Homo sapiens: one gene and its partners. The protein of the gene in region 1 purifies or fractionates together with the protein of each later gene. This does not show direct contact. Each region holds a gene or a part of one and is shown in the gene's direction. Other genes may lie near its edges.

Region 1 (3,500 bases):
GACTGGTTAGTGCAGAAGGATATGAGTCACCAGCAGGATTTGTCAGCAAATAGAGAAGGATATGATGGAGAAACAATAGATTCTAGTGACATTATTTTCATTCCACATGTGTGGTTACAAACAAGTTTCCTTTGGTGATTAGTTTAAATTATGCAAATTGGGTCTTTCTGGGTGAAAAGTACTTTAAATATAAGTCACAGGCTATATTCTCAATTGTTTTCTTAGATTGGATCTTCATTTGGAGGTCATCAACAGGTAGAATTTAGTTAAACTCGTTATCTGTTGACTATGATTTAGTAAGTTGAAAGAAAATTTTTGTTAAGCTTTTTGGTAATTACGGAGCTGCTTGCTCAGTAGATCAGGGGAGGCCCATAAATATGGCAATATTTGCTCTTTTTCTCAGTGAGCAAAGAGTTGCTCTCTTACCACTACTCTGCTTTGAAATTCCTAAGAGCTTTTATTGCATTTGAATTGGTCTGAAATTCTCAGCCCGGTCAAGGCTTCTCCAGAGTTATCTAACCAAAGACTAAGCACCTTTCTCAAGTCACACTACCATGGTTCCTTCACTGTTTCTACCAGTTTTCTATTATAAAAGTTTTACCTTTCTTCAGAAGTCTTAATCCTACTCCATTCTTCTCACGCTTACTTTGTATCTTTAAAATTTGTGGTGGTAATATGAAAACTTAATACCAATCAAGCATTTTTCACCCACGTTGATTCTTCTAGGAGCTTGATCCTGGATAGTGTTTGTATGATGTGCACACGTCTCTGCAAATGCTTGTTTGAAGATTGGCTGTGCTGCATTTTGGTATAATTGGGAGGTGACATATTGTCCCTTATCTCAGTAAACATTTGGAGGAAGAGGACGAGAAAGATTGAATTTTGCATTCTTTAATTGGGAAGAAAAGGAAGGTGAATCCATGTTGAGCTGAGCTAGTGAGTAAAGAATAACTTCTTGACATGGCATTATAGAGTTATTTCACCATTTTTATTTCACGTTAATATGTAGTATGAAATATTTACTTTCACTGTGTGGTTTTTAAAGATCGTAATGTTACTGTGTTTTGTGAAAGGATGCCATTATTGGACAATTAGTGGATAGACAGTACATTTTAAAAGGCCACCAGCAGCTTCAAATAGAATGATTTGGATTCTTGACTGTTTATCTTGTATTGTACTCAGTACACAAACATATGTCTGTGAACTATAATGTAATTTATAAAAAGCAAGTTTAGGAGAGGAAGTGAAGTGTAACTTACCCAGTTATAGGGGAAACTTGGATCAGAGTGCCTGAACAGCAGAAACATTTCTGGGGCTCAAACAAAATAATTTATGTTGACAAGATGTATTTTGGGATGTTTTTATTCTGTGTCTTGTCCATAGAGAGTTTCCCTCACTCTCTTTGGGGATTAATACTGGAACAGGACCTTTAAATACGCTCAATACATTTGACAAAATGGGGAAATGAAAAGAGTTAAGTTGACCCATAAACTACTAAGTTCTGAGATATGGTATTTTTTATTTTTTTTTTGAGATGGAGTCTCACTGTCGCCCAGGTTGGAGTGCAGTGGCACAATCTCGGCTCACTGCAGGTTCCGCCCCCCCGGGGTTCACGCCATTCTCCTGCCTCAGCCTCCCTAGTAGCTGGAACTACAGGCGCCCGCCACCTCGCCCGGCTAATTTTTTGTATTTTTAGTAGAGACGGGGTTTCACCGTGTTAGCCAGGATGGTCTCGATCTGCTGACCTCGTGATCCGCCCGCCTTGGCCTCCCAAAGTGCTGGGATTACAGGCGTGAGCCACCACGCCCGGCCCGAGATGGTATATTTTAGGTAATGTGAACAGTAGCCGGAAAGTTTTTGCTTTGCATGCTACTCCTGTGCTGTAGGTTATTTTGAAAGGTGATTCAAATAACCTTTCCCAAGTATCTATTTTGCAACCTCAGGGAACTTGCAGCTGTTACAGCCATTTTAACTGTCCTGATATAGCTCAGAAAACATTTCAATGTGGTGTTGACAGGCTGACTCCAGGTGTTCTTTTGGATTTTTACTACTGAATTTGCTTTATTACAATTGAAGTTCAGAATCTTAAATTATTTATTAATGAAATTATTGATTCAATGGTTCTTGGGTTAATGTACATACAGTGATGTTGGAAACTAAATTAAAATGATTAAGACTTAAATTGTTCTCTGGAAAAATTAGCCTTTTGAGATTAAAGAAGGAAGGATGGGAGGAGGAAATAAAACAAATGTTAGGATTTAACTTTCTGGGGAAGCAACTGAATTGGAGATAGTTCCTATTCTTAAGAAGGTTACCAAAGTTATTTAGGAAAAGAATGTGCTTAAACTTTATAATAAAGGGGCTTGGGAGTCTTAAAATGCACATAAACTGAAGTCTTTAAACATAAACCCCATAGAAAAGATAGCCATGATACTTTTGTCACAAAAGTATGGATGAATAGAATCCATTTAGTAAAACTATTTAATGTAATTTTTAAAAGATTAACTGAAAACAATTAGATTAATACTCAATATAAGGATTGTGCTGTTAGGATTTTTTAATGTTATTACCAGTGCTATTCCAATACTTTTTAAAGAGAAAGTCGGCGTTGGCCATAGTGCTGTTAACCTGCATTTAAATTTTATTTATGAAAGGAAAAATACCAATTTTAGATAAGAGATTCATTTTGAGAATTGGAAATCTTTAGAGGAAAAATGGAGTACAAAATTGTAAAGTAAATATTTTTAAGTGTGGCCTGAAAATATTTAATGCAATTTTTGTCTTATAGTTATTTGTAGAGGTAGAAATTACTAGAAAAGGACAACCGTTAATCACCGGGGTACATGCACATCTAAAACCACTCCCTTTTCATTTTGGTGGGAACAGGGCCCACAGGACTTCAGTGAATAACTGTCACTGTTCTCAGAAGCAGGTGCGATTGTTGACTAATTGCTTCCCTTATCTTTCTGAGTGGCTGGCCATGTATCTTCTACTGGTTTTGAAATGTTAAGACATTTTCCCACCATCAAGGTCATGATTTCTTTTTATAGAACTGATTATTGATTTCTGTACTGGGACTTGAGTCTCAAGTTCCCTCCTTAAATGAGGAAGTGGAAAAGTGGGAATAACCAAGGGAGTAACTATGAAATTTTTTTTTTTTTTTTTTTTTTTTGAGACAGAGTTTCACTCTGTCACCCAGGCTGGAGTACAGTGGCACGATCTTGGCTCACTGCAACTTCCGCCTCCCAGGTTCAAGCAATTCTCCTGCTTCAGCCACCTGAGCTGGGACTACAGCCATGCGCCACAATACCTGGCTAGTTTTTGTATTTTTGGTAGAGACAGGGTTTTGCCATGTTGGCCAGGCTGGTCTTGAACTCCTGACCTCAGGTGATCCGCCCATCTTGGCCTTCCAAAGTGCTGGGATTACAGGCGTAAGCCATCGCGCCCGGCCAAAAAATTTTTTTTAACAGTAAAAAAAGCATCTTATTTTTGGCTTATTC
Region 2 (3,500 bases), on another chromosome or scaffold:
TTACACAGAATCACCTGTTTATATCACATAAAATCTCATAGACTTTAGTTGTATGTAGTCTGCTTAATAAAAGTAACTATAAATATATTCGAAGATTCTTTTGCTTTAAAGTAGATTCCTAGGTTTAGATTTGGATACTAGGTTTCATTGGTTGTTACAGTATGTTTATGCCCTCCACATGCTATATTACAAACAGTAAGAGATATGGATAATGTTCCTGAATTTCTTTGATAAGTAAGTATTTTCTTAAGACAGTTTAGCAAATTCCAGCTGAGGCCATGCATGGGGAAATATGGCAAAAGAGTATGTTCTCTAAAGTTACTTGACAACTTTTCAGATGAGGTTGAGTAGATCCACAGGGTTGGAGATAAGATTACAGCATTATAGAGTGCTAGCCTCTGTGTCCTTCCAGATGATATTCTGTTCAAAAGTCTAATAAATCTCTTTTGTCACCTAGCATAGGTAAATAGAAAATCTTTACTAAACCAATTCTTATGACCAGATTTTAAATCTATAGGTATGATCCATGACCCCTTTTAAAAAAGATATAGATTTGAATTGATGTTGCTATTTTAACAGGAAAAACTACTCTGGCTGACTGTCTTATATCTAGCAATGGAATCATCTCCAGCCGCCTAGCAGGCAAGGTATGTTATTATTTTATAAATACTTGTTGCATTTCAGTATTAGCTATCAACAATGTGATGAACCATTTTCTGTGTTCTTCAGCCATCCAAAAGGGTATAAAACATAATTCTTGCGTCTAAAAGCTGCCAATCCATTTTGCAAGATAAAAATGCTGAGGAGAAAAATAGTTACTTCTGTATTGCTTTGTATTGCTTTATCCTAAGTGCAAAAGTGAGTTTTTGCAGCAAGCAAATGATACACCATTGTGGAAGATTTCACAGCGCAAGAGATTCTTTGTAGGTGAATGAGTTGAGTGGTTTGAGGAGAAGACAGAAAAGCTACCAGGTAGTGGGAAATAAGACGGATAAAGGCTAATTTGTGTGTTGTGCTCTATTTGAGTGGAGTGTTTGCCTAGAGACTAGTGACAGAGAAAACATACTGGCAGGGAGAATAAGATTATAGAAGACCTTAAAAGTTAACCTAAGTATCAAAGGAAAGCTGCTTGTGCCTGAGGATTGTGATGAAAATAGTGGGTTTTTTGGTTTTTGTTTTTGAGACAGGATCTCACTCTGTTGCCCAGGCTAGAGTGCAGTGGTGTGATCATGCACGGCTCACTGCAACCTCGCCCTGTTGGGCTCAGGTGATCCTCCCACCTCAGCCTCTTGGGTACCTGGGACTACAGGTGCACACCACCACACCTGGCTAATTTTTTGTAGAGACAGGGTTTTGCCATGTTCCCTAGGCTGATCTTGAACTCCTGGGCTCAAGCAATCCTCCTGCCTTGACTTCCCAAAGTGCTGGAATTACAGGTGTGAGTCACCACACCTAGCCTGAAAATAGCGTTTGAGGAAATAAAATTAAAGAGATCTTTATTTGTAGCTATGAGTTGAAAGGGCTTGGAATAATTTACTTGGCAGTAGAAAAATAAAGATATATTCGTTTCCATAATGAATTTAGGATATGATCAATAGGGTTTATCAGGTGACAGAGAATAGAGAGAAGAGGAGACGGAGAAGCAAAATTGAATCCACAGGGTAGACCCAATAGACTTGAAGATCGATTTGGGAATTGATGTGTGGGTTGGGAGGGAAGCTGGCCCAAGATACTATCTAGAGGAGGCTGAAGAAAACTAGGTTGAGTGAAATAATGAAATGCTTATATTTTCCCCACTTGAGAATTTAGAGAAAGTACAAAACTGAAGTAAGTAGATGAAAGGAAATAGTAAAGCATAAATTAATGAAATAGTAAACAGACATTTTATAGAAAGGATCAGTGAAGCCAGAAGTTTGTTTTTGGAAAAGATTAACCCAGCTAACAAATACAAAGAGTGAACCCTAATGTAAACTATGGACTTTAATTAATCATAATGCATCAATATTGGTTCATCAGTTGTAACAAAGGTATCACACCATATGCTAATACAAGATAGATATAATAGGGGAAACTGTGTGGGTGGGAGGAGAGAGTATGTGGGAACCTTCAGTCAATTTTTCTGTAAACTTAAAGGTGCTCTAAAAATATAAAGTTATTAATTTAAACAATTACTAGCAATATAGACAATTTTTGATTCTCTTGACTAGGAAACTTTTTTGTTTTGTTTTTCATTGACATTGTTGAGGAACATTTGACACTTTTGACCTGGTAATGTTCCTAATGTGGCTCACTGTACTTTGGACATATAGAAAGCATAGTATATATAAATAAATATTTTTGAATGAATGACTTTAAAGAAGAGTAACACAACTGACAAAACACCAGCAAGATGATCAAGAAGAAAAGAGAGGAGGCAGAAATATGTGATACCCAGAAAGAAAAATGCTGCAGAAGTTAATAAGGTAATAATAGGATATAATGAACAACTCTGTGCCAGTAAACTTAAAAGTGCTAAAATGGAAAAATGTCTGGAAAACATAACTTGCTAAAATGGAGTCAAGAAGAAATAGGAAACTTGAATTATTCTATAGTCATTTAAGAAATTGAATTGGCTGGCAAAAATCTTTCCATAAAGTAAAGACCCAGATGGTTTAACTCTCTAGTTCTGCCAAACATTCAAAGAATAATTTCAGTCCTACTTAAACCATTTCAAAATATAGCAGAGAAAAACCCAACAATCGGCAGTATTCTCCAAATCATATGAAGATAGCATAACTTTGATACCAAAAGTCTGTTAAGGATAGTACAATATAGGAGAATTATATACCAACCTTATGATTATGGATGCAAAAATTATCATCCTCATTAACAAACAATTCAGCATAGTATAAAAAGATGATTATTCATATCCAAATCGAGTTTATCCCAAGGAATTCAAGATTGGTTTAACATGTAATTTCACTATATTAATGGATTAAAGGAAGAAAATCATGATCATTTCAACAGATATAAAGACATGTAGTAAAATTCAACATCTATTGTGATAAAACCTCTTTGCAATGTAGTTACAGAAGAGAACTTCTGTAATCTGATGTGGGATATTTATAAAAAACCTAAAATGAAGATTGAACTTAATGATGAAGTGTTAAAACTTCTCTATTCATAGCCAGGAATAAGGCAAGAATGGCTGTCACACCCTTCTGCTCATTGTGTTATAACTTCTACTTTAGATTGTACTGGAGGTTCTAGTTGCAGTGATAAAGCTGGAAAGAAAAATAAAAAGTGTGAATTTTGGAAAGGAAGAAAACAAAAATGTAGATAAATTGCTAGGATATTAGTAACAATTTGGCAGGTTTCAGGATACGAAAACTGTTGAAAAGAAGTATACGTGAGCAATAAATAGGTAATATACAGTAATTTAAAAACGTAAACCATTTAAATAGCATAATAAATGTACCTGTGCCGGGCATGGTGGCTCATGCCTGTAATCCCAGCTACTT
Region 3 (3,500 bases), on another chromosome or scaffold:
CCATAAATGGTGGCTGTTACAGAGAAGTATAAGCCTTACTTTCTAGGACCCTTAGCCAAACTTAGAAGCAAGCATTGACTTCAGTGTTTGTAAGGGGTCTGAAAGTATAAGTGCTATCTGAATGTGTTAACAGAGCATGAAGGTGCATTAGTATCTAAGTGTGTTGGCTAAAATTACTGTACGCCCTTACAAGAGAGCAGCATGAACTGTTCAGTTTCCATTGGGTCACTTGAAACCTGTTCAAGGGAGTCTTCTTTCAAAGCCCTCTAGGAAAATGATCCCATGGTCTGGGATTTTACACTTCTGGCCTGACATATTTGTACATTCCCTCCTCATTTTGTGTAGCCTCATCTGCAGCAGGTCCTCCATGTGTATGTCAGAAGCTGGACAAACTAGTACATCTGGAAGACTGCCATTAGAGAAAGGAAAATCTAATTATTTGAAATGTAGGAAGTTGACAACTTGAAGCGGGACTATAGTGAAGTATCCAGGAGGGTTTAGTGCAGGGTAGAATTTAAGGGGTCTGTGAGCATGAATAGGGGAAAAAAGTATTTATTTTCACTAATCCCCATCTGAAATTTAGTGTTTCCTTCTATTATGAATGTCAGCAACAAACTACACTATCTTCAGCAGCACTTGCTTGTACCTTTCACCAATAGAATCACTTATTTTCTTGCTACATATGGTTATCGCAGGTATCCTGAAACACCATTTTCACTCATCATTATCTTACGTAGTTGTCAGATTACAACTAGATCTTGCAGTTTTGAAGTGTTATAGAGCACATGTATTATGATATCACCAATTTTTTTTAATATTTTTATAATTGCATTTAAATACAATTGGTTTCTTTTGTAATTCTATGTATTTTCCTTTTTGCATTCAATAACACTCTTTTAAGAAGTCTGTAAGCTTCACCAGACTGCCAAAGAGATCTAAAGGTAGCCCTGATTTTTAGTGATTTTCTAAAGATGTCCTTCTACCATTCCACCAACTTTCTCAGTGTTACAGAACATCATGTATTTTATTTTCTTAGTTTCCAAGCCAGCGCCCTACTGGGAAGGAACAGCTGTGATCGATGGAGAATTTAAGGAGCTGAAGTTAACTGATTATCGTGGGAAATACTTGGTTTTCTTCTTCTACCCACTTGATTTGTAAGTAATACATGTAAATAGCTAGTAAAATCTCAGTCTTTATCAATTATTTTTCAGGAGTATCAAACAAATTATTTTGTTCAGCTCTTGGTTTTTAAAAAGGCAAGCTGAAGTAAAGAAATGTATTTAAAAAGGTAACATCTACCATATATTTCAGAGTCATAACACACCGACCTCAATACTTATGTCTACATGATTATGTTATAATGGAATAATTAGAGGAAAGCTACAATATATTCATTAAGCTATACCTACTAAGGCAAGAAAATGGACTGATAATATATTAGAAAGCATTTAATAGCAAGACCTATGCCATAATTCTTTTTACTGTATCTCTCTTGATTAGAAAATTAATTCTGTAATCCCAGCACTTTGGGAGGCCAAGGCAGGTGGATTACAAGGTCAAGAGATCGAGACCATCCTGGCCAACATGGTAAAACCCCATCTCTACTAAAAATGCAAAAATTAGCTGGGCGTGGTGGTACGCGCCTGTAGTCCCAGCTACTCGGGAGGCTGAGGCAGGAGAATTGCTTGAACCCTGGAGGCGGAGGTTGCAGTAAGCTGAGATAGTGCCACTGCACTCCAGCCTGGCGACAGCGAGACTCCATCTCAAAAAGAAAAGAAAAAGAAAATTAAGCCATTTTCTCTAGTGATACCATGTAACTGTGGTTTTTCCATTTTTATTCTTTGCTGCATCTGTTGCTTTTCTGGGATTTGAACATTTTGCTGAAAATATTATATACTGCTTAAGGAATAAGGAATAACACCTGTGTATATGTTATGGTTATTGTGGGGTTTCTCGTCTTTTTTTAACTCTGTGACAGTGAGCGTTTTTGTATATGGTCAGAAAGTTGACTAAAAGTAAATACCCTTACAGCTTTATTCACGTTGAGGATTTAATTTTATTTTACAAAACACTATTTTGAGTGTTTTTCAAAATTCATGAAAGTGAGAAGAGACCAAAAAGAGTTATGTCAATTTTTATCTTTTATTCTCTTGGAACTTACTTTTTGGTTACAACAAATAACTAGAAGTTTCCTCCTCTATCTTTGCCACTGTGCCTTTTTCCATTAGGACTAATCTGGAACTACATAGATCAAATTTAAACTTGCAGGGAGGGTATACTTAAGCTCATTGCTATAGGTTGTTTCTAGGCCAGGGATTAACAAATTTTTTCTGCTGGATTTGGCCTATTGACCTATTTGCCAACCCCTGCTCTAAGCCACAAAGGAAGAATTCTCATGAAAATTATTACATTGAGACTAAAGTTATGAGTCTGCATAATATATAATCTTTTAAATTATAAGAACTTGCTTCTTTCTAATCAACTCATATTGTGACTTGATTTTTTTAAGTATAGCTTAATTTCTAATAGAAACCAGAAGTAGAAATTTCAGTAGACATAAAAAATGACAGGCCTTCTAAATTCATGTTGTTATAAAACCAGAAGGTTAACATGTATGTTAAATATATACGACTAACACCCTGAATTTGGAAGTTAGTCTAATGTAGCAGAAAAATATGTTCTGTGTTTCTCCATTGTTATTCATAACTCCATAATGGGTAAGAGATAGTTAATTGGAGCATGTTGTTAGCAATGGTCTTCTGGGACAAGGAGCTAAGATAGCCTCTTCCTGTTTTCATGTAATGCTGGACTGTGCCTGGTTAGAGAAGGAAGAATTCTGGGGCATTTGCCACAGTCTACAAGGAGGAAAGTTACAAACGTAACCCTTCAGTTTCCTGCCAAAACTTTTTCTGTCTTCACTAAGAAGTTGGTCAAATGTATCTCTAGGTAGCATTCCTTGAAATAAGAAGAAAGGCAGAGGCTGGGTGCAGTGGCTCACGCCTGTAATCCCAGCACTTTGGGAGGCCAACATGGGCGGATCACCTGAGGTCAGGAGTTCTAGACCAGCCTGGCCAACAAGGTGAAACCCCGTCTCTACTGAAAATACAAACAAAATTACCCGGGCGTGGTGGTGGGCGTTTGTAGTCCCAGTTACTCAGCAGGCTGAGGCAGGAGAATTGCTTGAACCCGGGAGGCGGAGGTTGCAGTGAGCTGAGATCGCGCCACTGCACTCCAGCCTGGGTGACAGAGTGAGACCCTGCCACAAAAAAAAAAAAAAAGGAAGGCTGAGGCTGACCATTCCTACCCTTTAGAAAATATTAAAAATACATTTTATAGCCCAGGTTTCCAGGGACATCATCCGAGATTAGAACTGTCTACTTGGACATGACAGTGCTGTACCTGAATACCTGAAACATGTTAAAATCCTGTATTGGTATCTGGTAGGAACTTGTGCCCTAACTAAGTCTATGTTTTTCAAACTTTCTTGACCATGTCTCACA
Region 4 (4,230 bases), on another chromosome or scaffold:
ATGTTTTAAGTTTCTTTTTTTTCTTTTTTTTTTTTTGATACGGAGTCTCCCTGTGTCACCCAGGCTGGAGTGCAGTGGCGCGATCTCGGCTCACTGCAAGCTCCGCCTCCCGGGTTCACGCCATTCTCCTGCCTCAGCCTCTCCGAGTAGCTGGGACTACAGGCGCCCGCCACCATGCCCGGTTAATTTTTTGTATTTTTAGTAGAGACGGGGTTTCACCGTGGTCTACGATCTCCTGACCTCATGCTCCGCCCGCCTCGGCCTCCCAAAGTACTGGGATTACAAGCGTGAGCCACCAACGCCCGGCCTGAATGTTTTAAGTTTCAAGGAAAAGACCAATTTGGCAGCTACTCTGCTACCTCGTCACCTCCAGGTGACGTTGGGAGTACTGGGGAGCTAGGTTTCCAGAACTTTTTGCTCTTGAGTGACCTAAGACCCTAGCAGAGTTTGGTCAGTGTGATTAAGAATGAGCCTCTGTGGGTCTGTTTAGGATGCTTGCCCCCTCCCATTTCCTTAACTTGCCTGAATTCCTGCTGGGAATACAGATTCGGGGCCCTTCCCACTCTGTAAATATGGGAAAAGGTCTAGGAAGTATATACTCCTAGCAATAATATGTAGGGGTTCTATGACTAGGAAATTTGGGGAACTGTCCCCCTGACCGCTCCATCCGTAACTTCTGCACACCTTTTGGGGTACGCCGCCGACCTGGAAAGCGTTGCAGGGCGCTCATGCTGCCCGCAGGTGGCGCCACGTGATCGCGAGCCGCAGAGAGCCCGTACCCTAGGAGTCTCGAGGCGCGAGGACTGCTGGTCCGCAGCTGTGCCGGGGCCACCGACGCCGCTTACCCCGGCGGAGCGCCGCGCAGGTGGAGTTGGGGACAGCGGCCGGTGCCCCGGCTTTTTAGGCTGTGTGCATCCCAAGCCGCCTCTAGTTGGCTTCTCGGGCTTCCGGGGCAGGAGGGCGCGCGGCTTTGTGCCTACGAATTGAGAACTGGAGAGCCAGTAACCGGTGCACCGGGAACCTGCCGCCTTGCGCCGCAGGGCTTTAGTCCAAACCTGGCCGGTCCAGGCTCCGGGATCTACTACAGGGGCCCCTGGGGAGCGCGGGCCCCAGGGACGGCTCCTTCCCATTGGCAGCAGGACGGATGCCACGCCCCTTTTTCTTCAGCTCTCATCTTTGACTGGCTCTCGAGTCCCAGATGGCCACGCCCCCTCCCCTCGCACATACACAAGAGTCACGCGCCTTTCAGTTGGAAACTTGGCGTGCAGACGGGGACGGTGGCTCTCGTCGCCCCACCCACTTACCTTGCCATTGGTCCGCGGAGCGGCACACGGTCACGCCCCCATTCCAGCCCCCTGGCTGGGAGGGCGGGCACCCGCTTGTGATTGGCTGGTCGGCCTGCCTCTCGCGGGAGCAGCCGGCGCTCCTCTCCCTCCCTCTTTCCCTCCCGCGAGCCTCGGGGTTCCTCAGCTGGCTGAGGTGGAGTCAGTGTCAGTCAGGGAGGCGAACTGCTGAGCACTGGCCGCGGACGCTCCGTTGCAGTCTCGCCCAGGGGCCGGTACCTGCGCTCGCGCCGCCGGGTTGAAAGGATGAAGCCGCAGCTGGAGCAGCCACCCTATGATTGGCTGTGGCGCTTGTGAACCCAAAGTAAAGATGGCGGGCGGGCAGGCAGCCGCCGCACTGCCCACTTGGAAGATGGCGGCGCGCCGCAGCCTCAGCGCTCGCGGCCGGGGGATCCTGCAGGCGGCTGCGGGGCGGCTGCTGCCGCTGCTCCTGCTGAGCTGCTGCTGCGGTGCGGGCGGCTGCGCAGCGGTGGGCGAGAATGAGGAGACGGTGATCATCGGGCTGCGACTGGAGGACACGAACGACGTGTCGTTCATGGAAGGGGGGGCGCTGCGGGTGAGCGAACGGACCCGGGTCAAGCTGCGGGTGTACGGGCAGAACATCAATAACGAGACGTGGTCCCGCATCGCCTTCACCGAGCACGAGCGGCGGCGCCACAGCCCGGGGGAGCGCGGGCTGGGGGGCCCCGCGCCGCCAGAGCCGGACAGCGGCCCCCAGCGATGCGGCATCCGCACCTCAGACATCATCATCTTGCCCCACATCATTCTCAACCGCCGCACCTCGGGCATCATCGAGATCGAGATCAAACCGCTACGCAAGATGGAGAAGAGCAAGTCCTATTACCTGTGCACGTCGCTCTCCACGCCCGCCCTGGGCGCCGGCGGCTCGGGGTCCACGGGTGGCGCCGTCGGGGGCAAGGGTGGCTCGGGGGTGGCCGGGCTCCCGCCGCCCCCGTGGGCCGAGACCACCTGGATTTACCACGACGGCGAGGACACCAAGATGATCGTAGGCGAAGAGAAGAAGTTCCTGCTGCCCTTCTGGCTGCAGGTGATCTTCATTTCGCTGCTGCTGTGCCTGTCGGGCATGTTCAGCGGCCTCAACCTGGGGCTCATGGCCCTGGACCCGATGGAGCTGCGCATCGTGCAGAACTGCGGCACGGAGAAGGAGAAGAATTACGCCAAGCGCATCGAGCCGGTGCGCAGGCAGGGCAACTACCTGCTGTGCTCACTGCTGCTGGGCAACGTGCTGGTCAACACCACGCTCACCATCCTGCTCGACGACATCGCCGGCTCGGGCCTCGTGGCCGTGGTAGTCTCCACCATCGGTATCGTCATCTTCGGAGAGATCGTGCCCCAGGCCATCTGCTCCCGGCATGGCCTGGCTGTGGGGGCCAACACCATCTTCCTCACCAAGTTTTTCATGATGATGACCTTCCCCGCTTCCTACCCGGTCAGCAAGCTGCTGGACTGCGTCCTGGGCCAGGAGATAGGCACCGTCTATAACCGGGAAAAACTGCTGGAGATGCTCCGGGTCACCGATCCCTACAACGACCTCGTTAAGGAGGAGCTGAACATCATCCAAGGGGCGCTGGAGCTCCGCACCAAGACGGTGGAGGACGTGATGACCCCACTCCGGGACTGCTTCATGATCACCGGCGAAGCCATCCTGGACTTCAACACCATGTCTGAGATCATGGAGAGCGGCTACACCCGCATTCCAGTGTTTGAAGGGGAGCGCTCCAATATCGTGGACCTGCTGTTTGTCAAAGACTTGGCCTTCGTGGATCCCGATGACTGTACCCCCCTGAAAACCATCACCAAATTTTATAACCACCCCTTGCACTTTGTTTTCAATGACACCAAGTTGGACGCTATGCTGGAAGAATTTAAGAAAGGTGGGAAATTTTGGTCTCTTTCATTGGCTTGCTCTTTCTCTCTCCATCCTCCTCCCTACTTGAGTCCTCTACCCTCAGACCAACCCCCCAAGGCGAGTTGACCGGGATTTCTCCTTCTCCCTCTTAATTGCAAAGTTGAAAGGGTGGCGTGGATTTGGGGATGGATTGAACTAGTAAGTGCTACTAGGTTATTTTAAAGCACAAGACTGCCATCACTTACTTTTTCCCATTATCAAAAAGCAGGCTGTGTAATTTCTGTGCATGACACTTATTTATTTTTTTTTTTTTGGTCCCGTGTGTGGGCCTCTGTTCTTGAGGGGTCTGCCGCCTTCATTGTCTGGGTTCTCAGTGAGTAGGTGAAGGTAGGGGCTGGCTGATGCCATGCCATTTGGTGGACTTTAATCACAGGCATTTGGAAAACATGTAACTAGCTTTTGTAAACCCAGTGCAGTCCTTTTTCTCCTCCTTAAACATCCACACTGGCCTTTCAAAGATCGAAGTACATTTTCTATAGCTTCTGTTCCTGCTTGCCTGGCAACTTGTGGGGAAGATTGAGGTCTGCCTTTGAGGGTAAGGGGTGGGGTAAACTAAGTATCGCCAAAAAAAATCACCCATTTTGGATGTGACTTCTCTTAGCTAGAAAAGAGTTGTTGTTGTTGTTTTAAATTAAAGTTATTAATATGTAACTTGGAAAGATTAGAGGTTAGCCAGCCTTTTGTGAAGAGGCTGTATGTCCCGTAGCCTTCTTCACTATTTGTTTACATTTATCTGACAACAGTTACAGTTGCCCAAACCAAGTGTGATTTTGGCAGAAAGCTTGAACCTTTAACAGTGGGATGAATCCCTCTATTGGGGCTTATTTATTTCTTGACTCTTTCAGTTTAACGTGTTCTTTTTTTCCACCTTGATCATCCGATACATTAAGTTGAAGTATGTCTCCGTCAACTCTCACCGTTCCAAGATGCTTATACAGTACATCATTTATATTTGTT

Evidence for each region. Proteins that work in one complex are often made in the same cells at the same time.
Region 2: the proteins of PTP4A2 (region 1) and EFL1 purify together in Homo sapiens (affinity purification with mass spectrometry; 2 studies listed by BioGRID and IntAct, with this or other methods). This does not show direct contact.
Region 3: the proteins of PTP4A2 (region 1) and PRDX4 purify together in Homo sapiens (affinity purification with mass spectrometry, with the first as the bait; one large-scale study listed by BioGRID). This does not show direct contact.
Region 4: the proteins of PTP4A2 (region 1) and CNNM2 purify together in Homo sapiens (affinity purification with mass spectrometry; 5 studies listed by BioGRID and IntAct, with this or other methods). This does not show direct contact.

What each region holds. Positions count from the first base shown.
Region 1 is NC_000001.11:31,928,369-31,931,868, reverse strand, and holds part of PTP4A2 (protein tyrosine phosphatase type IVA 2), read left to right. Parts: intron 1-726; exon of another isoform or gene 727-936; intron 937-3,500.
Region 2 is NC_000015.10:82,256,235-82,259,734, reverse strand, and holds part of EFL1 (elongation factor-like GTPase 1), read left to right. Parts: intron 1-579; coding exon 580-647; intron 648-3,500. UniProt on the Homo sapiens protein: GTPase involved in the biogenesis of the 60S ribosomal subunit and translational activation of ribosomes.
Region 3 is NC_000023.11:23,670,493-23,673,992, forward strand, and holds part of PRDX4 (peroxiredoxin-4 precursor), read left to right. Parts: intron 1-1,036; coding exon 1,037-1,154; intron 1,155-3,500. UniProt on the Homo sapiens protein: Thiol-specific peroxidase that catalyzes the reduction of hydrogen peroxide and organic hydroperoxides to water and alcohols, respectively.
Region 4 is NC_000010.11:102,916,864-102,921,093, forward strand, and holds the start of CNNM2 (metal transporter CNNM2), read left to right. Parts: upstream 1-1,430; 5' UTR 1,431-1,617; coding exon 1,618-3,238; intron 3,239-4,230.